Homo sapiens: one gene and its partners. The protein of the gene in region 3 interacts with the protein of the main gene of each other region in a pairwise test. Each region holds a gene or a part of one and is shown on either strand. Other genes may lie near its edges.

Region 1 (8,769 bases), on a different chromosome or scaffold from region 3:
GCGCCTACCACTGTTGTGGATTATCTATGTGTTGTGTAGATTGCAACCAGATCACAAAGCTAGTTTTCCCTCTTTATGAATGTGAAGGAAAATATTCCAGTAAATTAACATTTGCCAGCCACAGGACTAAATTTAATGAAGATTATGAGCAATGTTTGACCCCTCTGAACAGGAGACAAAAAATAAAAGTAAGCACTGGTTCTGTTTCACTTGGGCAATGTGATCTTGGGAGAAAAACCTATATTTTCTTACTCTTTTAAAAGGCTTTTGCAACACTGATTTCAGCCAAAGGCAAAGAAACCAAGGTTGTTACCTGTAGTTGAGGACAGATGCTTTGGCGTTTTCTCCTAGATGAATGTGTTTTGCAGGAGAGGTGGCTTTTGGGATCTTCCCAGTTTTAATATGTGCCTACACATCAATGAAATGATCTTGCATTCAAAATGCTTGTTAAGTCTATATGGTTGGTATCTGTGTAACCTCTAACCAGGTGGCTTTCTCTGTTGTGAAGTGTTCCTTTAAGAGAAACCAGAGGCTTCTCGCCTGGGGCTTGCTGTGGGCCTGGCCTGGATCCACATTCTTGTGCATTGCTGACTACTTTCTTGGGAAAAACTGGAACCAGTTTTGCTTGGTGTGTTGGATAGGGAATGGCAGCATTGGGTGAAAACCTTTCCAGCTCTGTTATCAAAAGCCAGGCCTGGCCTGAAAGAGGGAGGACTATGTTTGAAGTTTGATTGATTTAACAGAGGCAGAGGTTGCTTCATTACACACAGGATGCCTTTTGTATCAGGATATGAATGAGAGATTAGAAAGGTGACGAGATGCCCTGCTTTGCTTGTGACAGTGCCAGTTTACTCCTGTTGGTTTATCTTAATTATCAAAAGCACCCCCTTTCACATGTAAAAGTGTCCTGGTTTGGGTGATAATTATCTGGTCACCCTAGATATTAAGGAATCCTGAATTTTTTTCATCACCCCTCTTCCGACACCAGATTTTGAGTCTTGCCTTATTTCAGTCTTTTATTTATTAAATGCAAAGCTAGAAAATCAGAAAAATTTAAACCTGAAAAATATATAAGAAAAAATGAAATAGGAGGAAGGAAGATAGGAGAATGAGATAATTGCTTGTCATCTATTTACACACATAGTGAATAAAATAGTTTTATTCTTAAGTTACTAAGCATCTGCCGTGGCTGTAAGCCCATATTATTATTGTCTTCAAGCACAATATGAATTAACACCTGTCCATATATCTAGAGCTGACACTAATTGGGACAAATCCTTTGATTTGGGAGAGCAGTTTCTACAAAACCTGTTTGCAGACCTAGTGGTTACCATGGCTCTTAGAGGTAGGAATGCAAGTTTCAAGATCTAGTGTCTGGTCCAGATCTTGGATATTTACTGAGATTCCAGAACACAAGTGTTGTTGTGAAGACTTGATTCCACATTCTCTTAGTTTCCAAGCTCTCAGGGCCATGAGGATAATAGGAGGGCTTTTGTTTTCTGTACTCCCTTGTGTCTCCAGTGTTTGGTTTGGGTCTCAGCTTTTCATACAGAGGGGTCGCAGAGAGGGAGAACTGTTGTGTCTGTTCACCACATGAAAATTCTCTTGGGGGTTTGAGATTGTGCAGGTGACCTGGCAAGGGTTTGGATTCTTTACCCAACTTAGATATATGAAGTTTGTGGCATTTGCTTCTGCAGTAGTTGCTATGCTCCTTTACCAAAGAATTGTGTGTTTGTAACACAGCTCACTTACTATGTTGGCCAGTGGATGTTATAATTAATTATGGCTGTCACCTTTCCCAAACTCACTCCACTGAAGTCCTCAAAAGCTTGGTCAGCATGTCTAAATAAGAAGAAATTTATTTATTTATTTATTTTTTGAGACAGGGTCTCACTCCGTTGCCCAGACTGGAGTGCAGTGGTGCAATCTTGGCTCACCGCATCCTCCGCCTCCTGGGTTTAAGCGATTCTCATGCCTCCGTCTCCCAAGTAGCTGGGATTACAGGCACGCACCACTACCATCAGCAAATTTTTGTGTTTTTAGTAGAGACAGGATTTCACCATGTTGGCCAGGCTGGTCTTGAACTCCTGACAAATGATCCACCCTCCTCGGCCTCCCAAAGTGTTGGGATTACAGGTGTGAGCCACCGTGACCGGCCTATGTATCTTTTTTATAAGTAGGATGACTATGTAATTTAAAAAAATCCAGACAAGGACACTTTTGAGAGTAAAATATGGTACTAACTGGAAGGGGCATTAGATCAACAAGTATAAACTGAGACTGTGCCAGGAAAACTAGGATTTATGGCTGTTCTAACTATGACTCAAGTGATAAGCTTGTATATGTATTATATCCATATGATGAGAAATGTCCTTAGCTTCTTCTAGTCTTGTTCAACGTATATGTGTGTGTGTGTGTATGCAATGTATGTATAGATAAACATTGATAATGTATCTATGGATATGTGAATTGTAGGTTTGAAATAAACCACTTAAGAAGTCCTGGTAATTGGAAATTTATGCCCTTCCTTATCTCTTTCATTGGTTGACTTTTTAACTAAACTCTTTGGATCTAGCCTCTCCAAACTTTAAATCATCTCCTGACCTTGTCTATTTTAATACCATTCTATTGATATAATTCTTTTGCTTAAAAACCTCTGATGGCTTATCATTTTCTTTTTAATTCTCAAAGTAAGATCCATAGGCAGTTTGGTGGTTAGAAGGGAAAAGCAATGAAAAAATTTAATTCATTCATCCATTCATTTATTTGTTCATTCAAGTAATATGTATTGAGCTCCATCTGCGGGTTAGTATCTGATCTAGGTGCTGGGAATATATCAATGAATAAAACAAAGATCTCTGACCTTGTAGAGTTTTCATTCTGTTGGGGGCAGGCAGGTGGGAGGTGGGAGACAGATAATAAACCAAATAACTAAATTATATATGATGCTAGAAGGAGATGAGTGCTTTGGAAGAAAGAGAAAGTAGGACAGGGTAAGTGTGGTTGAGTAGGCTTCATGGAGAAAGAGACCTTAAGCAAAGAGTTAACGGAAGGTAAGAGAAGTTGCTTAATACAAATACCTGAGGGATAGAGTTGCAGGATGGCCAGTGCAAAGGCCCTGAGAAAAGAATGTGTTTGGATATGTTCAAAGATTTGCAAGATCAGCATGATGGGGTGGAATGACAAGGGGGAAGTCAGAAATGAGACCAGAAGGGTGGTGTGGGTGTTGCAAAGCCTGTAGGGCCTTGAGATAGGCCATTTAATTATGATTTCAGCAGACATCCCCTTATGTTCTTAAAACTTATTATAATATTTAAGATTGTATTTGTGCTGCAAAGACTGCACTGGTGAGTGCGTATAGCTTACATTTTGTTAATGGTCCACTTCATGTTTGTTAATATAATTTTTATATCATTTACTTATTTTTTATTTGTTAAAAGAATATTTTTTGTTTTTGCTGTTCTTAAATTGTATTCCCATTTCACAAAACTAGATAAGTGGTTCAAAAGTAGTTCATTGAAGTGTAAAAATAGTGATGAAAATAGTACTGTAAATGCTACATTTCAGAATACCATAAACATACTTAGAGAACTGAATCCCACTGCATATAAAATGGGAATATGTATGTATAGAGACAAGGGAATCTCTGAGAGTGACAATTTCAGAACAGTAGCTGAAATTGAAAAGTGCAAATGGAAATATGACAATGACTATCTCAAAACTATTTTTTATTGGACTTGCTATCCCCATTAGGACCAAATGAATCCGTAATCGTTGCCTGTTATGAAACTTTGTCCAATAGTGGCATGAAGCCATGGATGTTTTTGTGTCATTTTCGAACAAAGCACAGTGGCTTCTCTGTTATACTATTGAAGTTTTCTAGGACAGGCACACAATAATGCTTTCCTTTATAAAATTAATGTATTATATGGCTAAAGGTAGGTAAGAGATTATAATTCTATTAGCATCATTAAAGGATCCTTGTAGCAAAATAAGTATGAGTCATATTATTGAAGAGACACTTGGAAAATCAGCTGGAAAGTTAAAGACAAACATTATCCTTAGAGAGAAACCAGAAGTTATTGACAAAACTCCTTTGTCAAATAACATGGTTGGCTGTGGCATAATATCAGTGGAGTGGAGTGTGGAAGAGCGATTACTATCAAGTGCACGCTAGCAGATATTTCACTTTATGGTTGGATGAAACCACCGATGTCATGCAGAGAATGAATCAGCTTTTGGCATTTGTTCAGAAATGAGTGCTCGGTGATGCTTTTGTTCATTTGTCACTGAAAACTTGTGCTATAGGAAGAGTTTTTTTTTGTTTTTTTTTTTTTGGTTAACCATTATTCATGAGAGTGGAAAAGTTGCTCGGGACAGAACTGACAGGGTACTGGGCTCAGGTACAGATAAGGTGATGGCTTCATGAAGAAAAGGAGTTGTACTTAGAAAGAAGCCAATCCACATGCTACCCACTTCATGGAGAAGACGTAATACCCTCTGATCTTGAGGAAATACAAAAAGAAACAGTGGAAACTATGGATTCAACCAAACTGTGGCCCCTGTGTCTGTGAGTTTGCTGTGCAAAGTGATGGGCAGTGAGTGTAAGACTGCTTCCCCAAGCTGACATATGCTAGCTGCATAGTGGAAAGGTGCTCGTGTAATATTTTATCTGTGGAGTAAGATATCTTTGGAGCAAGAAAAACATTTCCTTATGACAGTGATTAGAAATGATTTGTGTTATATCAAGTGGTATACCTAAGTCATATGCTTAGCCCGTGGTGAACTGTGGCAAGGACAGAGAGGGAAGGGAGAATTATTAACAAATAAAACAATATGCCACAATCTTAGACTATGAAATTTTTTATTAGGGAGTTGGAAGTTCACATTGACTGTAAATTAAGGAAGTGATATTTTCAGTAATAGACAGCCATTTATATCATAAGCATAGTATCTCTCAGTGACCTGCTAGAAGAATAAGAGCTCAAAGTAATAGAACTTAGACCCAGTAAGTTTTGATGGGGAGTAGACACGAGTGTATATTTGGTATTTGAGAGCATGTAGAGAACCATGGCAGGAGGGACCCAGACTTTTAGGATTTTGCATGAAGATATTGGGTGGCAGGGAGTACAGGCTGAAGGAGGTAGAGAAAACTGTCAGATTTCTCTGACAGTTGGATATGATCTTTCTTAAGTTTTTGCCTTAGGCTTCACTTCATTTTATCCAAATGGACTTCATACTCTAAGGTTTTCAGGACATAATCTTTATTGCCATTGGCATAATCTAGAAAAAATGAATGATTTCTTCTGGTCTTATAGTGGTATTGGATACCCTCCGTATAGGCCCCCACCCCTTCCTCCCTCCATTTTTTCCTCTCTTCTCTTTCTCCTTCTCCTCCTTTGTTCTCTCCTTCTTTAAGCCATTGAGTTGGCATCTCTAAGCTACACGAGCTAGAAGAGCTCATCTTCTGTATCACTGTTATCTAGGCAGATATATGTGCTATTCAGGGAACAAGGGAAAGGAGCCCCTAGGGAAGGGAAGTTCTGTACCTTGCTCAACTAACTCATCCTAATGTCCGATATCCAGCTATAGCATGCATTTAAATGTAAACCCCATTCTTTAATAAAGACTCATTTCCTTTTTCCCCTCTTTGGACTTTTAATAAAGATGGAATCATTGTCTTTTGTTTAATAAGTCATCCATTGTGATGGCCCTTATTTAATACTAGGACAAAAGTCATTCATGCATTATTCATTGAACCTTATATGCCAGGCTCTATGCTAAGTAATGGGTATAAAAGAGGTTAATAATCAGACATGGCTCTGTCCAGATAAGACAGAATCTAATGGAAAACAGGCCACACATATATGAATAAATAAATAAGTATATAATTGCAAAACAAGGCAAAAATATTAATGTTTGTTAAATCTGGGCGTTGGTATGTATGGTATACCTCAGTAATATACTTAGGCCACAGTGAATCATGGCAAAGACAAACAAGGAAGGGAAAATTATTAGCAAGTAAAACCATATGCCACAATCTTAGACTATGAATTTTTTTTATTAGAGAGTTAGATGTCCACATTGACCATAAATTAAGGAAGTAATATTTGGTATATGGGCTACTGTTATATTAACTTCTTAACAATATGAACTTCTAAATGTATATTTTAAATATTTCATAAGCAACAAATGAAAAAACCTAGTTGGAAGTACATTAAGTGCTTTGTCGAGGTGGGCTTTGGCAGAGAATGTTGTGTAACTGAGACTTCCTTTAGATGGAGTGCTCAGGGAAAACCTGAAGTGTAATTCATCACTTGCCTATATAAGAAGGATGAGGATAATTTGGAAAGGGTTCAGGGAAGAGTAACAAAGATGATTGATGACAGAGTTGAAAATAGCCCTATGAGAACAGTCTTAGAGAACTGGGGATGCTAAGCAGCAATGGAATGCTTAACCTAATGCAGTGATTTAGGTTTTTTTTTTTTTAATTTATAGGGAGTTTTACACATCCACATTCTCTTCACTTGTCTGCCATGGTCAACAGCAGGCAAGACAAGTGATTCAATTTAGAATTATGGGTTGGAGAAGAATCAGAATTTTGTTCTGCACTTGAGGAAAAATTGGAAAGGATCTGAGAGGTAAACTAGTTTAGCCTTTCTGTAAAGAAATATCTCTTCAGTGTTTTTAACAGGTGGTCATCAGGTTTTTAGGAGATAGTTTCCATGCTTCCTCCACTAAAAATAGGGTGATGGTGAGTGGGACACTCTAGTTTACTTTAATTAGACAGGTCTTCTTCCTGTCCCATAAATACCCTAGACTCATCTCCACCTCAGTACTTTTACCACAGGAAGCAACTCCCACCTGGAATGCCCACCACTTCTACTTACTCTTTCAGGCCCCAGGTCTCCATTGCCCTTCTGTATGCAATTTAAAAACAGTGGTTTTTGTCATTTTTCCCACCTCATCCTTCTGAAGAATATGCCATTCCTGGAATTCAGTGTAGTTTCCCTTGTCAGTGATTGACAGTAAGAGTAAGGGTGGAGTAAGTATCTTATAGGAGGAGTTGGGAGACAGTGTGTTTAGCCTTCCACCCAGATGCTGATATGCTACCCTCTTGGGAATCACTCGTTTGTAGCAATTAAAATCTTAATCATCTGCTGTTTTAGGTGGTACACTAGTTATTGTTTTCCATTAGTCTTCTTGCCACCTAGATTTTAAGCACTCTAAATATATGGAAACTTGGCAGATGCCCCTGTGTAATGCCCAGTATTGATCACATAGTGAATATTCAATAACCAATGCCTAATGGCTAAAGGAACCATCTATTTCTTCTTCATGGACCATTATGAAGGGTTGTTATTTATATAGATCAGATATTAATTGACACAGGATACTAAAAGATTAACATTTTGGACTTTTAAAATGTCAGAAAGTCAAGTCTTGGAGGCCTAGTTCATTCAGATAACTCTCATCTCAGAACTTTCTTCCTTCGTAAGTCTTCTAACTCCTTGCTATTCAAAGTGTGGTCCACAGTCCAGGCAGCATCAGGATCACCAGGGAGCTTGTTGGAAATGCAGAATCTCAGGCACCACACCAGACTTATTGAATTTGAATCTGCATTTTTAAAAGATCCTCACATATGTTGGATGCACAGTAAAGTTTGAGAAACATCATTTTAAATCATCAGAACTCAGAAATTTAGGAGTATTTATCTTCAAAGAGAAGTAAGTGTGGAAATGAAGATTTCATCAGTCTGTGGATGAGATCCTCAGTGCCTTCTGCCATGTGATCTGGAATTTTGCTACTTCATATAGGAGCTTGCCAGGCCAGAAGATACCTCTGCAGGAGTTCCCTGGGGTAGTTCAGGTATGTAGGTGATATTTAGGATTGGTGATTACAGGAAGAAGAAGCAGTTGTTGGCATGAGAAACTAGGAGAGGTTGTCATAAGTAGAGGAGCATGGCAATACGACCCTAAACCAAGAGATCACTTTATGATTGGACACAACTTCTAACTCCCTGAACATGGACTTGTCTCAAACTCCAATACCTCCAGAGCCAACAGGTCACAAATGAAACCAGCTGGATGTGTTGTGCATGGTAGCCTTGTGGAGTGGTGAGGATCATGGAGAGACACACTTCATCAAAAGGAAAGGCAGTGTCCCCACTTGGCTCACCTTATTGTTGCCACATGGGAATTTGGACCCACCATGGCCAAATCTTCAGATTTTTCAAGTGAAGCTAAACTTAATTACATGTAAGTTTGTATGTAAAACATCTCTTGGGTGTAATTTGTTGGTTAAGTATACTGTTTTCAGAACAGCTCATGCCAAACGAAATTCACGTGCTGTTGTGGTGTCTGTGTCTGGTTCGCAGTACCTGTTCTGGATCAACTGAATGTATGAGGTGGTTTTGATACCTGGCTTCTTCAGTGCAGGGCACCAGACACAGGTGTTATGGATCTCTACCAAGAAAATGAAATAAAAAGACGTAAAAGAAGGGAGCTGTATATGCTTTGATGGCCTGATTTAAAATCTGTGATAATCTGAAGAACCTCAGTGGTGTTTGAAGAAAGGGTTAGGTGCCTAAAGGAATAAAATCCAGGTTTTGTAAAAACAGTAAGCAGGTGTTGAGGCAAGGGCAAGGAGATACAGAAACAGAAACTACTTGGCATCCTCAAGCTAGGATCACACACTGCAACAAGGCAGTCAGGGCAAGGATGCTGGACCATAGCTGGAACCTTCTTGTGCTAGAAGAGAAGTGTAACC
Region 2 (5,577 bases), on a different chromosome or scaffold from region 3:
CAAGGAATTCTCATGCCTCAGCCTCCCAAGTAGCTGGGATTACAGGCACTCACCACCATGCTCAGCTAATTTTTCTATTTTTAGTAGAGACGGGGTTTCACCATGTTGGCCAGGCTAGTCTCGAACTCCTGACCTCAGGTGATCCACCTGCCTCAGCCTCTCAAAGAGCTGGGATTACAAGCGTGAGCCACCATGCCTGGCAGAGACTGGTAACTTATAAAGGAAAGAGGTTTAATTGGCTTATGCATCTGCAGGCTGTACAAGAAGCATAGCAGCTTCTGCTTCTGAGGTAGCCACAGGAAACTTTGAATCATGGCGGAATGTGAAGCAGAAATAGGCACGTCTTTGGTGGCGGGAGCAGGAGGAAAGGAAGCAGGGGGGATGCCACACACTTTTAAACAACCAGATCTCGTGAGAACTCTATCATGAGAACAGCACCAAAGGGATGGTGCTCAACCATTCACGAAGGATCCACCCCCATGATCCAGTCACCTCCCACCAGGCCCCACCTCCAACATTGGGGATTACAATTAAATATGAGATTTGGGTGGGGACACAGATTCAAACCATATCACGAATGTCTAGGGAGGACCCCAAGTGAAGGGGGCACAGCAAAACATAAAGGCCCTGAGATGGGGCCAGGCCTTGTACCCTGCAGGGCCAGAAGGGAGTCCCGGGGAGCTGTATAGCAGAGAAAGGGAAAAATGAATTCAGAGAGGAGACAGAGACCCAGTCCCCATAGGGACAGGCCAGGTACTTAAGGCCTGCATTATAAAATAATAATAATAATGTCTCCCTTCTCTTCAACCACCATCCCCACACCCAAAACATGTCATCTCCACAGTAGCAAGCATTCAGAGCAGTTATTTCTGGGTAACTTTCTCATAGTGTCGCTGTAGCTGAAAGGAAACTTAGCCATCTTCCCTACCTCTGAAGATTTAAGATAAACTCCTACTTCTCCTGTGTCTAAATGTCTACGAAATTTTGTGACCTGCTAATCCTCCTCAACTTCTTTTTATAATTGGAGATAAAAAGGCATATAACTATGAACACCTGGCAAGAAGGAAGGACACGGGAGAGGGGAGAAGAGAATTGCAAATGTTAGTTATATTCTTTCAGGAAGGCCTATGTTCCAGTCTTACCAATTATTTGTGAACTTATTTTTTATATTTTCCTGATGCTGAGAACATTTAGAAGTTATAAAGAGACAGAGATTCAACGTATAAAGCAAGAACGATAGCTGTTGAGGGAGTAGAAGCCAGGAGGAAGTCGTGTCCAGTAAGCTAAGGGAAAAAATAAACAAGAAAGTGTAATTAACTGTATTCAATGCTAACTGGGTAAGTAGGATAGAATGTATTTAACAAATTGATGTTATTGGTGACTACAAAAACCAGCTTTGTTGAGGTGGGTTCAGGGGACAATGACACGAAAGGAACTGAAAATAGCGAAAACAGACAAGAACGTTTGACATATTTATGGGTGTAGCATGTGCTTTAATTATTTCTTAGAAAATGGGCAGGTTGTAAATGGAAGAGGCTGAATATTGGTAATTGTAGAAGTTGGTGATGGGTACATGAATTCATTATATTAGTGTCTCTGAGAAAAGCTCATGTTTTTTTTTTTTAAGCAAGCACATTATAAGAAGCAATAGATGTGCCAGGGCATATGAACATCAGATGAATGGAAGTTATCCTGTGTTTTTCTTTTTAACTTAAATTCATCTTTTTTGAATTAAATCTTAATTGATACATCCTGTATATGAAATTTCACTTTATGGTATAAATCAGAGGCTTCCTATCCTATAGGAAAGATTCATGCTTGTTTTTCAAATTCAGTACAATTCTCCCAGTGATTTCTAGGAAAGAATAAAGAGGAGAGGAGAGGTAGACATCAGAATGTAGAGAGGCAATACTGTGTAAAAATGAAAAACAAAAAAAAAAACTTTATTTCTATTTTCCCAGGCTGCACAAATCTGGCTTTGATGAAGAAACTCAGAAGATCCTGATGTCTGTGGAAGAAAAAATTCCCCATCTGACCATTTCACATGGACCTTGGATTGACGAGGAATACAAGATCAGGGGTGTGCTCCTCTGATGGGGAACACCCTGAAGTAGTCGTCTCACAAAGGCTTTCCTTGGCCACAGTGGGACCTTCACCTGGCACCTCTATCCTGTAATTGCACATCATGGCAGCAGGGCTGTGATTTCAGAGGTACTCCCTAAGTGTTCTAGCAATATGATTATGGAGTGTGATTCAGTGTACATGCTGATTGTCTTTGCCTCGGTCCTATATCCCCTTGTCTTTAGAAATCCCATCCTGCCTTGTGATATTTAGAAGCACAAGTACGTTAAACAAGTGCTAAACGCTCTGGAAAGCATGGCTTTATTTTCTTAATGGATGTCTTGGTGTGTAGGAGCATGCATTTGTAGGCACCACAATCCGGATACTTCTGACACAGAAGTGATGCTAGAATGTGTCTATAGATTGTATTGCTAGCATCCAGACTTTCTAGTTTGTCCAGATTTCGATTTGATCAATTTTCTTGTCCAATAAAAAAGCATTTCCAAATCTCTACTTATCCTTTTATATATGACACCCCAATAGATTTTTCTAAAAATTCAGTATTATTCAAATATATCTACACTGTTTATATTTCAAAACACAATATTAAACACTTCATTGTCATAATTAAACATTCCCTAGTTCCCTACGGTAAATTGCTGATGCCTTATTGGCCTGGTCTAAAATTTTTATTACAAAACATAAAAGCAAGATGATGCAGAAATTGGATTATATAATCAGTTATCATTAGATTGAAATATAATCTCAGATTCTCCTGAGAATGAGAAATTGTGGACCTACTCTTGGATCTCTTGGCACACTCCTGGATTCTTTGGATATTTGGGAGGCTGAATTTTCTATAATCTTCAATGTAGAGTGCTCGCACTTACTTGCTTAATTTTACTTCCAGGTTTTCCATATGTTTAAGCAATTATGAACTTTTTTGCCCAATTTTCTATTTGCTTTTGGCCTTTTCCCACAACTTTAAAGAATGCTGGCATAGGCCAGGAGTGGTGGCTCACGCCTGTAATTCCAGCACTTTGGGAGGTCCACGCGGGCGGATCACCAGGTCAGGACTTTAAGACCTGTAAACACGAGTTTACACTCAAGACTGGACAAGGGTTTCCATAGGACAAAAGACACCATTGTGTGGGGGATTCCAGTGGAAAGAAGAACCAAGGAGTTTGCCACGGCCATGTGGGTGAGAATCTTGTGTGTGGGCCTCATTTGATGCTCAGTCAAGATGGGAAAGATATTATGGAAGAACAGAATGGCATTGGCCAGAGTCCCCACCCCAGTCTGCAAAGGAAAGATGGTTTTTATGGCCACTTCCCCTATGGTTCTTAGGACATTGTTCTGAAAAGACATGGGGAGGGTTTCCAGGTGGTCTGAACTGAAGAGCTGGCTATGTCTGTGATGAGATCAGCACTCTTAGCTTTTCATCTTGGAAAGTTATTTTGGTCTTTCCTTTACCCGAAATAGAGACACTGTCATATTCCACAGAAGGGGCTCAACATGGAGAACATACCCCTGACACCAGTTTCACATTTGACTGGTTTTTGGGTATTTATTTTCATTTGTTATTTGTTCTTTCTTTTGTTTTAGAGTCAGGGTCTGCTTTTTGGCTCAGTCTGGAGGGCAGTGGTGCCATCATAGCTCACTGCAGCCTTGAACTCCTGGGTTCAAGTGATGCTCCTGCCTCAGCCTCCTGTGTAGCTGGGACCACAGGTGCACACTACCGTTCCTTTTTTTTTTTTTTTGAGAGACAGCCTCACTCTGTTGCTCGCCCAGGCTGGAGTGCAGTGGCACAATCTCGGCTCACTGCAGCCTCCGTCTCCTGGGTTCAAGTGATTCTCCTGTCTCAGCCACCTGAGTAGCTGGGATTTCAGGCATGCGCCACCATGCCCTGCTAGTTTTTGTTTTGGTATTTTTAGTAGAGATGGGGTTTTGCCATGTTGGTCAGGCTGGTCTCAAACTCCTGACCTGAGGTAATCCGCCTGCCTCGGCCTCCCAAAGTGCTGGGATTACAGGCCTGAGCCACCGCGCTCAGCCCATTTAAATATTTTTTAGTATAGACGGGGTCTCACTATGTTTCCCAGGCTGGTCTGGTACTCCTGGCTTCAAGTGATCCTCCCACTTCAGCCTCTCAAACTGCTGGGATTACAGGCACAAGCCATCGCACCTGGCCCATTTACTTTTTTTTTTTAATCTCTCTTTACTATTGTTTTTTAAATCTCTCTTTACTATTGTTTTTTAAATCTCTCCCTTCCCTTCCCCTCTTTTCTTTCTTTCCTTTTCCTTCCCCTTCCCTCCTTTTTCTCTCTTTCCTGCAATGCTGCAATCTTGGCTCACTGCAGCCTCTGCCTCTGGGTTCAAGCGATTCTCCCGCCTTAGCCTACTGAGGAGCTGAGATTACAGGCATCTGCCATCATGCCCGGCTAATTTTTGTATTTTTAGTAGAGACAGGGTTTTGCCATGTCGGCCAGGCTGGTCTCGAACTCCCAACCTCAGGTGATCCACCCGCCTCAGCCTCCCAAAGTGCTAGGATTTCAGACATGAGCCACCACGCCCGGCCCTCTTTCACTTTTCTAAAACAGTACGCCACTGCATTCCAGCCTGGGTGACAGAGCGAAACACGGTCTTTTAAAAAAAAAAAAAAAAGAAGAAGAAAAAGAGAAGAAAGGAAGAAAAGAGGAGGAAAAAGGAGAAGAAAGAGGAGGAAAGGAAGAAAGAAAAATAAAGGAAGAAAGGAGGAGAAAAAGGAGGAAGAGGAAGAAGAAAAGAGAGGAGGAGGAGGAAGAAGAAATCAAAGTTCTCCAGTCTCATAAACCTGCACATGCAGAGAATCTGGAAAAACTAAAGCTGGGTTGTTCCCCAACCAATGGACATTCTATGGTCCCTTTTCTTCCAGATAATAAGGCCTTCTTTGTAACTGCTATGCAGACCTCTGGCTTCCCATCCAGCATACCTGAACTAAGACTTATTTTGTCTTACACTTTATACTCACTGAAAATCAAGAATCCCATGGTGAGCTATGATCACACACTGCAATGCAGCTTTAGTGATAGAGCAAGACCTTGTCTCTAAATATATATATATATCCCACAACACTCTAAATATATATATATATATATATCCCACAACAACAAATATTCCAGCCACAATGTCAGTATGACTGTTGAAGAACCTGACCTTATGATTGACATGTCATTTTCTCGATACTTTCAAGATTTTCTCTACCTTTGGCCTTTATTAACTTGACTCTGATAATGTTCGGGGATACTTTTCTTTTTTCTAAGAAAGGGTCTTGCTCTGTTGTCCATGCTGGAGTGCAATGGTGCGATCTCGGCTCACTGCAACCTCCACCTCCCGGGCTCAAACGATTCTCCCATCTCAGCATCCCGAGTAGCTGGGACTACAGGTGCATGCCACTATGCATGACTAATTTTTGTATTTTTAGTAGAGATGGTGATTTTGTCATGTTGGCCAGGCTGGTCTCGAACTCCTGACCTCAAG
Region 3 (8,824 bases):
GGGTGGTGGAGAATGAGGAGTAACTACTCAAAACTTTAGGGTTGATAAACATTTTCTAAAATTGTGGTGATAGTTGCACAACTGTGAATTTACTAAAAACCATTGACCAGTACACTTTAAATGCTAAATGGGTAAGTTGTATGGCATGTGAATATATGTCAAAGCTGTGTTCTTTTTTAATTCTGCAGTTCTCAACTCATAATCTTCCAACTTTTTTTTTTATAGAAACCTTAGTTTAGCTGTCTTTGAATTAGTTACAATGTCCTATCAAGCCCATTTCTTTTATAAGTACATACTAAAATACTAATGGCTGAAGTTGTGATACCTGGAATTTGCCTTAAAATAATCCAGGGGTGTTAGGAAGGGGGAGCAGCGTTAGGTATAAAGTGGCCATGTGTTGATAGCTACTGGGTGAAGGGTAAAATGCGGGATCATTACACCCTTCTTTCTACATTTGTTGAGTTTTTAAATTTTTATAATAAAAGATTTAAAATTGAAGGGAATGGTTCTTCGGACTGCCCACTCAATCCTATGCTGGTTATATTTTCTTGTGATAAAAATACACACATTGGAATATATACAGATGAAATGTGACACCTGAGATTTGCTTCCAAACAATAAGAGAATTTAATCTCACAAATGGACTAGGGAGCACGAAGGATCTAATTCCCACCCTGCTTGGAATATTCATCCTTCTGAAGTTTATCAGAAGACACAAGGCCAGCAGCAGAGCCCAGGAAGGGGGTGCAGATGAAACCATTGTTGAAGCTGGGTGAAAGGTATATGTGGGTTCATCGTATACTGCATAAATGTAAACTTTTCCATAACACGAGGTTTTTAAAAAACAACCTCTGTCACATGCATAAATTCAAAACATGTGATACAAGGCTTTTTTCCCCTAAAGCACCAAGAGAGTCATGGTGCCTAAAGCCATCCTCTTAAATTTGTATTTAATTGTTCTATAAATACAGTATCTACTGCTTCTGTTGTCACTTTGCAAATTCTGAGGTCAATCTCAGGAACAAGTCACAAAAAGTAGGAATAGCCAACAGTTATAGAGTTGCATATAGACCTGTGTTTGGAGAGTATGGGGAAGAATGGGGAAAGACATATAGCAGAGAACTTGTCAGTTCCAAATCACTGATTTCTTTCTCTCCTCTGGTGTGCCCAGACCTGGAGACAAGGACATACCCAGCCAGCAGACCAGGAGTATTAACCTTCACCTTCTGGTGGAAGGCCTTTTTTTTTCTTTTCTTTTCTTTTGGTACTTCATCAAATTCAACTGTGGCTTGACCGATATCTAAGTGCATTTACCTCTGAAATGATTCACAATAGTAAACTGATTTCAGCTTTTAATTTTAGAAGACAAAAAATAGTTTTTAAGAATCCTAAACTAGCTATGTTTGAGAAGACAATAGATTATGATTTTATAAAGAGCAAATTCCTAAAAATATATGCAAGATCATTACTGGCCCGTGGTATTTAGAGAAATGAAATGCACCCACCATTTGGCTGGACTTAGTCAGACAAACAGAATAGGTGGCATAACGGGTCTAATTCCTACCTTGTCTGGAATATCCATCCTTCTGTAGTTTTCCTGAACACTCATAGAGGCCAGTGGCAGAGCCCACAGGCAGAGCCACCAGGGTGGCGTTTTTTCATGAGGCACAAATCATGGCTTTCACTCACCACAGTCCAGCACGTACCCCAATAAGTTCATTCAACATGAAAGTATTTCAAAAGGAAAGCAAACTGACACTGGATGAAGTATACAATTTCAGGCGAGTCTCAAGGAACCTAACGTTCTTAATGTTCTTATTCAAACAATTACTTTGGGTTCAATTAGTTCTTCGAGTCCTTTTTTTTTTTTTTCAATTTGGTCTTGAATTGCAGTATGTGTGAAACTGCAAAAGCCGTTCTTACCATTCAGGACATACACTGATTATACATCTTACTAAAACCTAGCAGCATTGCTAGACTTTCAGATTTACACAGTGAGTTCATAGAAAGGTTATTTACGGTCGGCTGTGGTGGCTCATGCCTCTAATCCCCACACTTTGGGAGGCCGAGGCAGGAGGATCGCTTGAGCTCAGGAGTTGGAAACCAGCCTGGGCAACATGGGGAAACTCTGTCCCTTAAAAATAAAAATTAAAAATTAAAAAAAAAAGATATAAAGAGAGGTTATTTACTGTGCTCATCTTCCATAGTCATTCCACAAAGATGTGTTTCCAAGTCTCTCAACACCCAGAAAACGTCAAGGGGTTGGATGCCTTGGAAATTGTGAGATTGTTAGGAGGCAGGGGGGAGTGGCCACCCGGTGTCCATAGATACTGGCTGGCAGCAGCTTTTCTCTGAAGTTGGGCACTCTTTGGCCCCAGGCTCAGCGTTCCCGGTTGGAGGAGGGAGGAGTGGGTCCTGTAGAGCAGACATCTCTAGCTAGCTGCTGGGCACTCCAGGACTTTTGGCCAGCTCATCCATAATGACAGGTCCCGGTTCTCACAAACTGAATTCTGCACAGCAGCCTGCATGGCTCCAGGAACCCAGTGGGGTTAAGGCCTTCCTTTAATGACCAGGTACAAGCGCCAGTTCACACACACCCCCTCATTACCTCCTGAACTCGTCTGGGGGTCGAGCCACCCTACACATTTCACATTTACGTGTGTCTTAATGCAGAATAAAACAAGCGATGTGCCCCAGTCAAACTGTCCCATCTCACAAATACACCTACTATGTGCCAGGCATTCTTGATACATCAGTGAACAAAAATGATCAAAATCCCTGCCCTCCCAGCACAGACGTTGTCAGTGCAGCAAATACTCAATAACCAAAAGAAGTTTAATCATTTTCCTCCCACTTTCCTGCCACCCACACCCTGTCCTTCCAATCTCCCAAAGAGCTGGGTGTCTTTAATTCTATTAGCTTGACAGGGAAAATAAAATTCTTCAGCCTGCGCGCAACAGACACTACCCAGGTGCAACCCAATTCACCCCTGAACTCGACCGTCGCGGAACATTTTTCTCCAGCCTCCAAAAACTTCAGGTGGCGTGAGGCTCCCCCAACTGCAGCCCTGGAGGCCAACAAAGGGGCAATGGAGAGGAACGACCAGAGCCCCCTATCACCGGGATGACCGGGCGAACGGGGCGCGCGCGCGGTACTCACCGAGGAGCCGGCCCAGAACGGGCACGAGTTCTTCACCTGCGGGGAGCTGCTCAGCGACAGCGCCCCGAAGCTGAGCGCCACCATGCAGCAGCCCAAGATCAGCTGAAGCAGCCCAAGTGACAGCAGCGGGCGGGCGGGCAGCAGCGCGGAGCCCGGGGCCGCGGCGGCAGCGGCGGCGACTGCCCGGCGGGAGGAGAGCGCCGGCGGCGCGGCCAGCACCCCGGCAGCAGCGGTGGCCGCGCAGCGAGGCCGCGACGGGGGCTGCAGCGCGCCCCGGGGCCAGCGCGGCCGCAGCGGGGGCAGCGGCGGCTCCTGAGCGGCGGCGGCAGCGGCGCCCGGGCCCCCGGCCTGCGGCCCACCCGAAAGCCCAGCCACGGGGCAGCAGGAGCCCGGGAGCACCACGGGCAGGGACATGGACGGACGGGGAAGGGTGCGGCCGGGTGCGGCCGGCTGCGGCGGGCAGAGGACGCGGAGCGGAGCCGAGCCGAAGGCGCAGCACACTGGGCACTGCAGACGGGCTCCGAGGCCGAGGGGGAGGGAAGGAAATGCGCACGGCCCAACCACTTGCTGCCGCCGCTGCCGCTGCCCTGGCTCCAGCCGGCCGCACCCACCTGCCGCCTGGCGGGTCCGCCTCCCGCTGGCCCTGGGCGCACCCTCACTCTCACCCACGCGCACTCCGTGCTCGCGCTGTGCCGGGGCAAGTGCGCCACAGCCTCAGGGTCCCCGCCGAACCTGCGCCGGCTTCCTGGGGTCCTGGGAGGGTGCCCTGCCCCAAATATTTAAGTAAGTCCCTCGAGGTGGGAGGCACCTCACGGCCAGGACACGTCAGCGCCGGCCACCGAGAGTCTCAGCGTCTGTCCCCACCCGCCGAGCTGGGGCTAGAGAAGAGCGAGGAGCCTTCTCTGTCCAGCCACGAGAGAGGCCCTGGCGCGCTTTAGTGAGAAGGGGGCCCGCCCTTAAACTTTTGCCCAAGGAGGGGGATGCCTGGAGGAGGGGCTTTGGGGCGACTCGATGGGAAGAGGTGTAAGCCAAGGACTTCGGGAAGGACGACGCCGAGCGCAGTTACCGCTCACAGGGCGCAGGACGTGCCTACCTCGCATCGGCGCGGGAGTGCTTTCCCGGCATCTCGGTAGGAGCGGGAATGAAAGGACTGGGTTACCTTGGAAGCATCCAGCATCCGTAAAGAAAGTACCCGGGGCAGCCCGGAGTGCATGGCAAGTGTAACGCTCTGTCCTCTCATTGACTTATGAGCTATATCAGGCATCTATTAGGCATCACCTGATAGAACACGGAACCCCCAAACTTCCGAGGAAATATCCTAATAAAATCCTAAACTACTCTGGTAATTTATGAAAAATCTTTAGAGCAAAAAAAAAAAAAAAAAAAAAAAAAAGATTCCTCTTTGCAAAATGAATTCCCTTAATAATATACTTTTCACCTCGGAAGAATTCTAATGCGTAGAAAGTTTCGTGCCTAAAATGATTATAATGGACTTTTTTTCCTGATAAGAACCAGAGCAGTGTTCTTTGCAGTTAGTCAGTTCCAGTATTAGAAAGCTTATCTTACCATAAGGTATTTAACATCCTCCTACCCAATAAACCAAGAAAAGTATGTGTCAGTTTTTATGCTCTGCTTGTGGAAGCTGGATTTATATTGGTCGTTACACTTTAACCCAATGTAATATACTGTCAATGTGCCCAAGTTTACATGCACACTTCTTAAATTATTAAAGCACTTGTCTTTAATGGTGCCTAGGACTTCCTTTACAGACTGCTCCCATGAATAAATTCAAATTCTGGAGGAAAAGGGAAATGTCTTTCAAAATAAGTGTTTAAAGTCTGTTGATTCATGCAGGGGTTTTTTGTTTTGTTTTGTTTTGTTTGAGATGGTGTCTCGCTCTGTTGCCCAGGCTGGAGTGCAATGGCGTGATCTCGGCTCACTGCAACCTCCGCCTCCCGGGTTCAAGCGATTCTCCTGCCTCAGCCTCCAGAGTAGCTGGGACTACAGGTGCCCGCCACCACACCCAGCTAATTTTTATATTTTTTAATAGAGACGGGGTTTCACCATGTTGGCCAGGATGGTCTGGATCTCTTGACCTCGTGATCCGCCCGCCTCGGCCTCCCAAAGTGCTGGGATTACAGGCGTGAGCCACCGCGCCCGGCTTCATGCAGTTTTTAAAAATGCCATACAGTATATGCTCTTAAATTGCTGCTGATGTTAAATGAAAAGCTTCTTGGGGCTGAGGTTATACTCTATTTTATATACAAGCTTAACAGTATTTAATTTTTAACAATGTATTACACCATGCAATATAGTAAGTCTGACTGAGTCTTAAGAAATTCTCTCAGCTAAACAAATCTATTTCATTGGCCAGTTCTTGACACCTGAAACTTACTACAAAAAATGTATTATTTGTGTCTAAGAATGTTGCTGTTAGAAGTCAGGATATCCACTGGTCCTTGAGGAGGGACATGATTATGACTGGAAAGAGGGTTTCAAGGGGTGCTGGTGACTATTTCTTTCTTGATGTGGGTACTAATTACATGAGTAAGGTTCATTTTGTGAAAATTCATGGAGTTACAGTTATGATTTGTGTGCATCTCTGTGTATATTATATACTTAAATACTGTAAAGTATTTCCAAATACTTTATTCTTAAAATTTTTAAAGCCTTTTTCCCCATGCAGAAACAGATGATAGCAAAAATAACTGAAATCCGTGGATGATTTTATCATCTTAAAGGCTTTACTCATTTTATAAGGTGACTAAAACTTTTCCAAAGCTACTAATTAAGGGTTGTTGTACAGTCATTTGTTGTTGTTGTTGGCCACATTTATAACTGAGTTTCTTTTTCTGGTTATAAACACAAATCCATGTAACACTACCCCAACCTTTAAAATTATGCCAATAAAAATATCAAGTATTTGGGCTTGGTATTTTTGTAAACCAAGCTTGATTCTTTGCATCTCCCAAACCCTGCTTACATTAAGTCTTTAGTTAGACCTGAACAACCTGTATGTAACTAAGCTCTTATAGGATAATTCAGAGCCATTGATTTCCGTTTGTCTTAATAAAAAAAAAAAAAAAAACTGAAGACTTCTGAAAACAGTCTGGCAATTTCTCAGGAAGTCAAGTATAGTGTTTGTTGTCATTTGACCCACTTATTCCACTCCTAGGTATATACCCAAAAGAAATGAACATATTCACACAAAAACCAGTGCACAAGTAGCAGCATTATTCACAACAGCCAAAAGGTGGAAGCAATCCAAGTGTCAATCAACTGGATGAACGGATTAACAAAACATGGAATATGCAGCCAGTGGAGTATATTTGTCAGTAAAAAGGAATGAGGTGCTCATCTATGCTACATGTAGAAACCTTAAAAACATTATACTAAGTTTCAAAATATCATATGTACCCCATAATATGTACAACTATTATGTATCCACAATAATTAAAAATTTTGTAGACATTATGCTAAGTGAAAAAAGCCAGTCACAAATGACCACATATGATATGATTCCATTTATCTAAATTGTCTAGAATAGAGAAATTTGTAGAGACAGAAAGTAGCTTACCGGCTGCTTAGGGCTGGGGAAATGGGGAGATTGCGAGGGGATGATGGCTAAAGGATATGTGGGTTCTTTTTAAGGTGGTGAAAATGTTCTAAAATTGATTGTACTGATGATTGTACAACTCTGTGAATGTACTAAAAACCAGTGAATTGTACACTTTAATGGGTGAATTGTATGTACGGTATGTGAATTATATCTCAATAAAGTTATCAAAAAATTTAAAAATAAAGTGTGGAAGAACCTGTGAAAAATTTGCCCCAGATTCTTCATTAATGTAGGCCAAAGTTCAAGGAAACAATAGCTGGAGTGTGTTGTTTGGTGGAACCCAGCTGCCAGTTTTCCTCAAGATCAAAGCTCAACTCCAAGAAGGTTCCGTACACCTTCTACCAATGCTTCCCCTCCCTGTCCCTCATTTTCCACTCCTTGCACTAGGAGCCTCCTCCACTGAGGAGTTCAGGCTCTTTGCCCAGGTTTCTTGGACACCTTTTTTTTTTCTTTTTTGAGACAGAGTCTCTCTCTTTTGCCCAGGCTGGAGTGCAGTGACTTGATCTCAGCTCACCGCAACCTCCAGGCTCCCAGGAGCCTGGCTCCCAGCCTCCCAGGCTCAAGCAATTCTTCTGCCTCAGCCTCCTTTATAGCTGGGATTACAGGTGCACACCACCACACTCGGCTAATTTTTGTATTTGTATTTGTAGTAGCAACAGGGTTTCACCATGTTGGGCAGGCTGGTCTCGAACTCCTGACCTCGTGATCTGCCCACCTCAGCCTCCCAAGGACCCTTTAAATAAACTCCTCAGTTCCTTCCACACTTCTCAGAAGACCCCCATCTGTCAGCTAATTAAAGGAGGCTGTTCCACATCGGAGTGAGAGCTGCTGAAGAAACTCTTTAAAACCTGTTCCCTGGCAAGATCCTCCAGGTCTTATATTTTACAAAAAAGGAAGTGCTTCTCTGAATTAAGGCATAGTGGATTCTAGAAGTCTCAGTTAATATGCTGGCTGGAGCAGCTTCTCAAAGTGTGCTCCAAAGACCACAGGATCACGCCAGGGCGGGGAAGGGGAATGTCAAGTTAATTCACTTCTCCCCACACCTGCGGGATCAGATACTCTGGACTGAAGGCCTGGAACCTGCATTGTAACAAATGCAAAGAAACATTAGTAGAGGGTACTATTTAGACTCCAGAATTTTTATATGGGAATGCTTATATGGAAGAGGAAGGTAGGGGATTTGACTTGAAAGCAAACATACATGCAAATATGTTGGTGGGAGGGCTTTGCTGGCCCCCAGCGGAGCTTCACTGCACAGGTGATCTTTATGCACAGAAGGAGTTAGACTACTGGATTCTAATGGGAAAGGTACCGTAGGAGAAACGAGTTGCTGGGTTCTAGCCCCCACTCCACTCTGTGCCCTTGACCCAGTCAGGAGCTTCCTGGCCTCAACTGCTTCATCTGTAAGATACGGGTTTGTGAGTATCATCTGCCTGAGGTTGGGCTATGCAATCATTTGGATACCCCCAGGCCTGCGATTTTGAAATTCAGCTATTCTCAGCGCCATGATTTCTCAGATGACCAGCAAGAGAACAAGGACTAAGAAAAGCAGGTAAATTTGGGGGTGGAATAAATTTATAGACTCAAAATTCCCCGACAAAACCCGAAACTCACTATTTTAAACTTTAAGGCCTCAGGTTCCATGGTCCTAGGTTTTTCCCTGAGGAAATCGATGAGTGGTAAGAGCAATTATAACATTTCACTTTGCAGAGAAAGGGCTGTGTGAGGCTTTTTTTAATTAAGAGAGAGAGGAAGAATAAAAGAAAGAAAGAAAGAAACCCTGAGCAGAGCTGGGCAAATCAGGCACTAGGTTTTTCTGAAATAATGGTGCAGACTGGTTGTTAAGAATTCCTAATGCCTCTGGCCCCAAGACAGACTTATTTGTCAAACAGATGAGCTGTAGCCATATTTTTCTCATTGTTCAAATTAAATACTGAAAACTTCTTATCATGCAAATCCCACAAAAGATAATTCAAGCCAGCTGCTTTAAAAATTATTAATGGCTGATCAATTTCTAGAGTAGATAAGCTATACATATATATATAT
Region 4 (8,769 bases), on a different chromosome or scaffold from region 3:
CTCGGAGACCCTGGGGGGAGGGGCTGATCTGTGGCAGCTCAAATGGGAGCAGCGAGCCCCAGCAGGGCAAGGGCTCCACATGGCACTTAGCACATCGAGGCTTGCTTTATGGCAGGTGCTCTGCTCTGCTGTCTGTTAAAACAAGGCCAATGATGAAATCGCAAACACCTACGTACAGCAGGCTGGCTAGGGCCTGAGTGCACAGTGAGCCCGTGAGCTGGGCCCTTCTAAAGGGCAGACCCCTCGGTTCAGGCTGGTTGTAGCCACAGAGGGATGCTAGTCTGGGAAGCAAAATCTTCTGTCGTTTAAGAAAAACTCAAGAAACATGGATCTTCATATCTCAAATCGAGATGCTAAAATAGAGGCTCCAGGATTTTTTAAAAACCATTATGCAGCCCAGTGAAGATGTGCTCCAGGCAGCTCTGGTCCACTGGTGATCAGTGTTTAATTCTGGACAAGAGATCCCTTCAGGGCCCTGGGGTTCTAATTCTTCCGTCTTCTCACAGACAGGAAGGAGGGCAGGACCAGGGCAACACAGGCAAGGGAAGGGCACAGCAGGGCACGAGGAGAAGAGTCGGTGGAGAGCGCAGCCGGGCAACACGGACACAGAGGGCAGGGAGGGAGCAGAAAGGGTAGTGTGGGCAGCGAGTGCCCCCTGCTGGCACTCCTGAGCCGAGAGGACCACAGCTCCCACCAGCCAGGCTGCAGCCCGAGCCACTGCCCAGGCCTGGCCATCAGGGGTGGGCACTCACCGCGCACTTCATACTGGCTGTACTCCAGCGGCTTCAGCACGGGCTGTGACAGGCAGAACCAGGGCAGCTGTTTGCGGAGTTGTGGCAGCAGGTAATGTGTGAAGAAGCCCACGGCCCCAGCCAGTGCGTACAACACGAAACCCAGCACCGACTGCAGGAGGGAGAGGCCAGAGACTCAGCTGATGGGAGCAGGCCAAGGGACCACAGAGGGCCACCTGGCACAGGCCGGGGAGGGGCTGCCCACGGCACTCAGATTGAGCAGGCTCCCGCCAAGACAGCGAGAGGCAGCAGCGGCCCATGCCACACAAACCTTCAGGGCAATAAAGACGGTGCTGGCGCTGATGGCGAAGGTGAGCACGGCGATCACCACACACATCACCAGGTCGGAGTGCAAGACCTCACGCTGCAGGGCCAGGAGAGACATTCAGCTGCCCGGCCAGGAGAGACACTCAGCTGCCCAGCAGCCCAAGCTGGACATGCCCCTCCCAGGAACCCCAGGACCTGTCACCACCTCCCCACAGACCCCCACCCCCCGCCCCCTCACCACCGACTGGCGCATCTTGTCCGGCAAGGGGTCCGGGGGCTCGGCCCGGGCTGTCTCCAAGCTGCGCTCCTCCAGCTCAGGGAACAGCTTGCTCCGGATCAGAGACCTGGGGGTGAGGAAGAGTCAGGAGGAGGCCGCCCCTCCTTCCCCCCGGCCCCAGTCACGGGCACATGCACAGACCACAAACCCCTACTGGGCAGACACAAACACACGACCCGGAGCACACCCACCAGAGCACGGTGGGGTCGCTGCTCTGCCGGCTCAGGTGGTAGGACAGTGCCACCAGGAGGCCACAGAAGACTGAGAAGAGGACAGGGACGTGCTGCTCTGGCCACGGAGTCTGCGGAGAGAATCCATGCTGGTCAGGGGAGGTGAGGTAAGCATGGGGCCCGGGCTGCCCCCGTGTGAGAAGCCACTGCTGAGCCCAGTTCACAGCCCCGCCCCAACCACCCTTACGCACTGCAGCATGCCCCCACCTCGCAAGCCACCCCTACCTTGATGGCCCCAAGGCAGAAACCGTAGAGCAGGGCAGCAGCCAGCAGGCTGCGGGAGAGGCTGAAGACTGCCGTGAGCGGGCTGGTGGCAGCTGTGTGGAAGGGAGAAGTACAGCCCAGCTCTCACTTGCAGGTACCCCACCTCAACCCTAGCCGCGCTTCCCCTCAACTCCCAGAGGCTGGCCTCCCTGGAAAGGCACCCCCAGCCCATTGTTCTCTGCTGCCCCAAGCCCCAAGCGGCCTTTAGAGCTTCCAAGATTCTCAGATATAAACCACTTGCCTGGGGAGGGAAGGAGAGGGGAGAAGGCAGAAACCTTGAGTCTGCAGTACAGACGCAGGAGAAGGTTCCGCAAGGGTGGAGCCAAGGACCCAATCCGAGGGCCCTCCTGGGCCTCCACACGGGCCCCATCCCTGAGCCACCTGTGGGCATCATACCTGTGCCCCCGAAGCCGTGCATATCTATTTGCTCCAGCAGGTACATGAGGCAGGTGTTGACCTGGGGCAGGAGGCCCAGGAGGAAGACGAAGGGGAAGCACAGGGTGAACACTGGCAGGGAGGGGACACGAAGGCCTGGTCAGCCTGCTGGCTTTCCGCGGCCCACCCTCGGGGACTCACTCTCCTGGGCCACCTCATCCCTGCCCCAGCCTCACCAGTGGCCACGTCTCGGGCACAGAAGAAGAAGGAGGCAGAGAAGAGCGTGAGGCCGTAGAGGGAGACAGGTGGGAAGGGCTGAGCTGAGCCCAGGGCGTCCAGCAGCCAGATGAGCAGACAGCAGATGCAGAAGTAGACAGGACGGCTGTACGCGATCACCCAGTTGTGGCCCTGAGGGGTCAGCCCATGAGGAGCTGGGTCTCCCCGACTGGCCACACCTCTGACACATGCACACACTCAAGGGCCCCAGGCCTGGCCCTGGGTCCAAGCTGGAGAGCCTGGCCAGGTGGGGGTGATGGGGGTGGTGAGGGAGCCCCAGCCCTCCATACCCTACCCTCCTCCCCACCTGGTCTCAGCCCCTCCCGGGGCCTCCTGGCCAGAGGCGCTGCTCCATGGGTACTCACGTGCATGGGGGACGCCGCATCAGGCTGCACGCTCTGGAAGAGACAGGGCTACGTTGGCAACTAGAGCCGATGCCCACGGGATGGTCAGAGGCCCCAGACCTGTTCAGCTCCACCACTAGGCAGTTATGAGTGACCAGGTCAGGCCCCCGAACTGTCCTGAGCCTCAGTTTTCTTGCTTGTAAAAGAGCTGGCCAGCTCTAGGGAACCTTAGACAAATTATCTACCTTTCAGCTTATACTCCTTAAAACTGGAGTTGTGGGAAGGGCAATCTTGGGAAAAGTCGGGTGGGGAAGGAAACACAGAGAGCCCGGCCTGACCTTCAGCAAGGAGTACTGGCAGGAGGCGATGACCAGGCAGAACTGGAAGACCCAGATGTCAGTGAAGAAGCCCTTGAGCAGCAGCAGGTAGCCCAGGAAGGCCACAAGGCTGCTCAGGCCCACGCCGAAGATGTTCTCCAGCACTCCCCGCGTCCTGCAGGGACAGCCTAGTCAGGGCGTGCCCGTCTTGCCTCACCTTCCAGTGGGGCAGTGGGGAAGATGGATCTTGCCCTAAAGGCCCAGCTCTGGGACTGTGCCCATGCCAGACCCTTGTCCTCTGAAGATGTGAACACCTATAACTTTGCGACGACGCGGCCCGGCAGCACCTGCTCCAGCGACCATTGTATTGCTCTCTCCTTCCCAATCTTTGCCTGCTCTGGACATTGAGGGCTGAGAGCTCAGGGTGCCATTACTCCCGGGATTCATCCATCCCCAGCTGAGACTGAGTTAACTGCACGTGGCTACATCGTGCATGCTGCCTTGGGCGTGCCACGCTATGCACACAGGACCAGCACCCAGTCCCTGTGCCTAGAGAAACCCAGATGGACGGGAAGCCACATGGGCTCTAGGCCCAAGTTCTCTACACTGGGTAGAAGTCATCTGACTTCTCTATTGGATTTTCTGGGACTCTGTGTCCCCTCTGAGAAATGGGAAAAGTGAGATAACTGGTCTGTGAGCTTTTCTAGGTTACAGCACTCGATTTTCAAATCAACAGAAGCTAATAAAAAAAAAGTGAATAGGATGGCCGGGCGCGGTAGCTCACGCCTGTAATCCCAGCACTTTGGGAGGCCGAGGCGGGCAGATCACAAGGTCAGGAGATCAAGACCATCTTGGCTAACACTGTGAAACCCCATCTCTACTAAAAAAAAAAAAATACAAAAATTAGCCAGGTGTGGTGGCGGGCACCTGTAGTCCCAGCTACTCAGGAGGCTGAGGCAGGAGAATGGCGTGAACCTGGGAGGCGGAGCTTGCAGTGAGCCGAGATCATGCCACTGCACTCCAGCCTGGACGACAGAGAGAGACTCCGTCTCAAAAAAAGTTTTTTTCAGCAGGACTTTGGAATAAACAGATTTAATACAGCACCACCCACTTGGCCACCCCTTTACACCACAAATGAACCATAGAAACCACCACTGCAGACTCCAGCCAACGACAGGCCCTCAGCTTCCCCCGAGTCAGGCTCTCTGCTGCCATGACTGCCTCCACAGGTACAGAGTCTGGGGAGCCAAGGTCCAGGGGCTTTCCAAGAATTGGGGGCCAAGGCTGCGGGACACTCACCGGTCCAGCAGAGCCAGCAGGGCAAGCCGCTCATAGCGCACAGAGGTCCAGCGGCCAGGGAGAAGCCAGTACTTGTAACTATGCTGGGCCCGGGGTGGCGCTTCTTCCATCAGTGTCTGCTCCTGGGATTCGTGCAGGGAGTCCTGGTCCAGCAGGTCAAACTGCAGTCCCCACAGCCGCGGCCGTCAGCCCCGCCACCCCCCACATGGTCTACTGTTACCCCCCTTCAGCACACCGGTCTGGTTGACCATTTCCATCAGCACATAAAGGCCCCTGTCTAGCGGCCCTGGACCCCACCAGAACCCTTCATCTGAAAGGGCTCCTCCTCTCTCCAGGTTCCCAGGACGTCGCCCAGTGGCTGCAGGGGCTGCCTAGAGTCACCCGCTCCCACGCCTGTCTTCCCCAGTCAGGCAAACTCTCCCACCTCTTCTGAAGCTCAAGGAAGTCCACTTGTCCTTTGGGACCTGGCACAAATGCTACCCTCCTCCCAGACAGGGCCTGTCACTGTCACTCTGACTACCCCATCCGAGCGTGCATGCAGGGCTCAGCCTTGAGGACATGCCTAGGTGCCAATGCCAGCCCTGAGGCCCTGGGCACATGACTTGACCTCTCATTTGTTGTATCCTTCACTCAACAAGCACTTGTGGGGCCCCAGCTATGGGCCCGGCCCTGCCCTGGGATCCAAGGATAAAATGGCGAGCCAGAGGCACGCAACCCTTCCCTCTGGAGGCGGCCGCCGGCCACGCTTCCACCCCACATGGTTACAAGGAAGAAATGAACCAGAAGCGGGCAGGTGGGAGCTTCTGGGGGCTGCCCAACCTATCTGTGGCCTTGAGGGTCAGGTGCCGGGTACCCTTTTATGATCATTCTTTAAGCTCTAAGATGGCGTTTCACGCATTTTTAGCGCTTCTGGTGTTAATAGATTAAGTATACAAATTTACTGTCCAAACTGTGATATTCTTAAGAGTGACAGAGCGCTGGTAATGAGTATACTGAGACAGGAAGTGTTAACAGAGAGCACCCCAGCAGCCACACGTGCACAGTGTATGCAGGGCAGCACAGTCATCACAGGGTCCCTGCTTGCTAACAGAACACTGCCACTTCCGCAAGTATCATCATTAACACCCATGGCCCCTGTTCACTGTGGGACCCTCCAGAGTTAGGAATGTACTCCAAAGGAATTCGTAGTAAGCAAATAAATGACTTCTCCAGCCATTCAGACCCAGAGTCTCTGCCAACATCAAAGATCAGGACAGACACAGTAGGGCCCCTGGAGCGCTCACTCAGCACTGCCCGTCCCTCCTGGGGCACCTGGGCAAGCTCTCTATGCAGGCCGGACTCAGTGATCTGCCCGCCCCGTCACGCCCCACTGGCACGGCCCTTCCCCGGCTGCTCCTCACCTCCGGGATCTCCAGGGGCACCCGGCGCACCTGCATGCCCTGCAGAACCACAGGCCTCGGCTGCAGCAGGTTCAGGCCGCCTGTAGCCTCAGGGACATCAGCCGAGTGGAAGCTGGAGGAATGCGAGTGTCGGTCCCTGTGAGAACAGCAGCCATCAGGATCCCCCCACGGGCGAGCCCTGGGGCTGGGTGGGGTCGAGGCCGAGGCCAAGGCCAGGCAGGTAGGGCTGTCTGTGCCGAGACCAACCAGGGCTCAAGGGACAAGTGCTGGGGTCAGGTGGCAGAAGTGCCTCCCTCCCAGACCCTGGCACGAGTGTCGAGGCTGTGCCCTGGGCTTCCTAGAAACTTCCTGCCCGGAGTGTCATGGAGCCAGGGACCCCAGGAGGTCTGTCCTTTGCTGCTCCCCATCCTCTCCCTGCAGATCTGAGCTGCCCCTGCCCAAGCCCAGCAGGAAGAGAGCAAACTCCAGGCTCAGGGAACTTCCCAGAGATGCAGGCCACCAAGACAATGGCTTGGGAGGCCAGGCTTGGGAACTCACCAGGCTCCATTAGCTGTCTGCTCCCCTTGCTGCCCTACAGGGTTCTCGTAGCCGCCTCCAGCCAGGCCAAAGGTGTAGGAACGCCGCACACCTGGGGCAGGGTATGGGAGATGAGGCAGCGTGGCAGAGACAGAAGCACCAAGGCCCGGCTCACGTGGGCACCAGACCCATCAAATGAGGCAGAACCTTGTGCTGTGTCCTCTGAGAGGGCAGCCCAGCCTCTGGAGAGGAAAGGGCCTACAGGTCAAGAGCCTGGGCGCGGCAGTCACCTGTCCTAGCTTTAGATCTCCCCTGTACTGTAAGCTGAGCCTCTGTTTCCTCATCAGCAGAGCAAAAGATGACAGAGACACCGTGCCTCAAAGAGGCTGCAAGGATGATGTCTGGCAGCATTAGCAGTGTACCTGCCACAGGGCCGAGCGAGCACCACTGCTAGGAGGACTCAGGCTGTTGGGGGAAGGCGGGGAGGCACTGGGCCACCGGGCTTGGGAAAGGCTCACCGCTCTCATCGTAGAAATAGTGCACAGCACCCTCAGAAGTGTCATCAAAGGTGCAGGCCTCATGCACATTGGCACCGGCCCGGGTGAGCAACAGTGAAGAGGCGAAATGCAGCGCAGAGGGCAGCGTCAGCGCCCGGGAGTGGGAGGCAGCCCGGCCCCGCTGAGCTTCCTGCAGGCTGCTGGAGAGGGTCAGCCCCAGGTCAGCGCCAGCTAGAGCTTGCGGGCCCTCCCCGGCCCCCGGTGCCCCTCGGCACAGCTGGCAAGGTGCTCACCTGGGCGGCGAGCCCATGACAGAGGCTGGAGGGGTGGGGTTGCTGCCTGCATTGTGGCGTCTCCGAATGGCCTGGGTCCGCCTCACACTGCTTGAGCGGTCCCGCCTGCCAGTCTCCTCGGCCGCTGCCCAGAGAGAGGCCCCCAAGTGTAAGTGACAGATGCTCAGACAAGGCTGGGGGAGTAAGGTTGGGGACGGTGTTCCGCCAGGGAGCTAAAGGCCTAGTACAACCACGCCCCGGCTCTGAGGCCCAGCCAGGTCACACAGCCCCATGCTCAGTTTCCTTACTTGCAAACAAGGATGACACTGATCGGCCCTGCCCCACCCCACTGGTGGTGGGAGGATGAGTGTGGATGATGAGAGTCCTCAGGGGACAGAGACTCAGGTGCTAATCAAGGATGTGGAGCCAGGTGGCTGAGCCCCATGTCTAAGAGGTTTGGCAGACAATGTCAATCACCACCAGGCCCACGTCCATCTGCTGCCTACAACCGAGGCTGAGCTGACACTGACCAGGTCCATTCTTACCTGCCCTTTGCCCAACCCCAAGCCCGTAGCTCACGTCCCCCAGCCCCTGCCTCTAGAGCAAGCACTCACCTCCCCCCACAGCACCTTCCTCCTGCAGCTCCCCCCGCCAGCCGGGCTGGTTGGCAGCGGGTCCCCTTCGCGCCTCAGCAGGCAGCACAACAGGCTCACTAGCAGCCTGCTCCACCCCAACCTGGGCCTCCAGCTCTGCCTTGCAGCCAGCCAGTGGGGGCCTCAGAACATCACCCCCAGCCCCATCCATGCTCAGCACACGGGCATGTGTTTTAGCGCTGGCGGTACTAGGCGTCCGCTGGGTCCCATATGGCCGCTTGGGGGGCACAGCAGTTCCCTCCTCAGCCCCATGGGGGGCCCTCCGCTTCCGGGGTCCCCCTGCTGCACCCCGGGAGCTCTCAGGGGAGTAGCAGGAAGTAGAAGAGGAGCTGTCAGTACTGTAGCGGCGCTGCGATCGGAGACTGGAGGCCGGGCTCAGTTCACTGCCCTCACTAGTGTCTTCATCCTCAAAGAAGCCCCCACCTTCAAGCAGGGGCCGTCGAGGGGCACGGCCAGGTGGAGAGTGTCTTCGCAGGGGTGGCTGCCGTTTGCTAGGCCGTAGCAGGGCCAAGTCCTTGGGCCGCACGACCAGGAGCGGCTCAGCCAGGCCCGGTGGCGTCCCTGCTCCAATGACCGTGTCAAAGGAACGCAGCGTGTCATCTGAGGGGACCCCGGCGTCTGGTGAGGCAGGCAGCTCAGCCTCAGAGGGTGGGTCTGTGTCGCTGCCCTCAGGGGCTGGCCCCCCTGGGGGGCTGTCCAGATGGGTGGAGTTGGTCTTCTCACTCTTGAAGCTGCTCAATGTCTCCCTGTCAGTGCCGCTGAAGCAGGAGTCTGAGGAGCCGGCTTTCTGGGGCGTGGGCTCCCCTGAGCCCCGCCGGTCAAGGGGCTGATAGCCACCTGCCCCCCTGCGTTGTTCCCGTCGACTGCTGGTCCTCACCAGGGCCCGGTCAGGCTGGGTCAGGGTCAGGAAGCTCTTGCTCAGCTCCTGGCTGAGGCTCCCCTTCAGCAGGGGGCTCATGGGAGTGTCAGCCATGCTGCTCCCACTCCAGGG

The links.
Region 1: the proteins of ENTREP1 (region 3) and HECW2 interact in binary tests that used the Homo sapiens proteins (3 or more experiments, as listed by UniProt).
Region 2: the proteins of ENTREP1 (region 3) and EPN1 interact in binary tests that used the Homo sapiens proteins (3 or more experiments, as listed by UniProt).
Region 4: the proteins of ENTREP1 (region 3) and PCNX3 interact in binary tests that used the Homo sapiens proteins (3 or more experiments, as listed by UniProt).

Annotation. Positions count from the first base shown.
Region 1 is NC_000002.12:196,582,309-196,591,077, reverse strand, and holds part of HECW2 (E3 ubiquitin-protein ligase HECW2), read left to right. Parts: intron 1-8,769. UniProt on the Homo sapiens protein: E3 ubiquitin-protein ligase that mediates ubiquitination of TP73. Acts to stabilize TP73 and enhance activation of transcription by TP73. Involved in the regulation of mitotic metaphase/anaphase transition.
Region 2 is NC_000019.10:55,705,429-55,711,005, reverse strand, and holds the end of EPN1 (epsin-1), read right to left. Parts: 3' UTR 2,095-5,577; coding exon of another isoform or gene 1,962-2,094; 3' UTR 1,473-1,961; downstream 1-1,472. Other genes in the region: NLRP9 (NACHT, LRR and PYD domains-containing protein 9), read left to right, coding at 1,962-2,094. UniProt on the Homo sapiens protein: Binds to membranes enriched in phosphatidylinositol 4,5-bisphosphate (PtdIns(4,5)P2). Modifies membrane curvature and facilitates the formation of clathrin-coated invaginations. Regulates receptor-mediated endocytosis.
Region 3 is NC_000009.12:69,320,059-69,328,882, reverse strand, and holds the start of ENTREP1 (endosomal transmembrane epsin interactor 1), read right to left. Parts: upstream 3,669-8,824; 5' UTR 3,574-3,668; coding exon 3,160-3,573; intron 1-3,159. UniProt on the Homo sapiens protein: Functions as an activator of the E3 ubiquitin protein ligase ITCH in the ubiquitination of the CXCL12-activated CXCR4 receptor. Thereby, triggers CXCR4 endocytosis and desensitization, negatively regulating the CXCL12/CXCR4 signaling pathway.
Region 4 is NC_000011.10:65,618,038-65,626,806, reverse strand, and holds part of PCNX3 (pecanex-like protein 3), read right to left. Parts: coding exon 7,740-8,769; intron 7,271-7,739; coding exon 7,147-7,270; intron 7,054-7,146; coding exon 6,875-7,053; intron 6,469-6,874; coding exon 6,378-6,468; intron 5,977-6,377; coding exon 5,841-5,976; intron 4,602-5,840; coding exon of another isoform or gene 4,563-4,601; coding exon 4,441-4,562; intron 3,317-4,440; coding exon 3,163-3,316; intron 2,879-3,162; coding exon 2,846-2,878; intron 2,613-2,845; coding exon 2,441-2,612; intron 2,337-2,440; coding exon 2,226-2,336; intron 1,883-2,225; coding exon 1,791-1,882; intron 1,637-1,790; coding exon 1,527-1,636; intron 1,403-1,526; coding exon 1,297-1,402; intron 1,181-1,296; coding exon of another isoform or gene 1,156-1,180; coding exon 1,063-1,155; intron 904-1,062; coding exon 753-903; intron 133-752; coding exon of another isoform or gene 107-132; exon of another isoform or gene 1-106.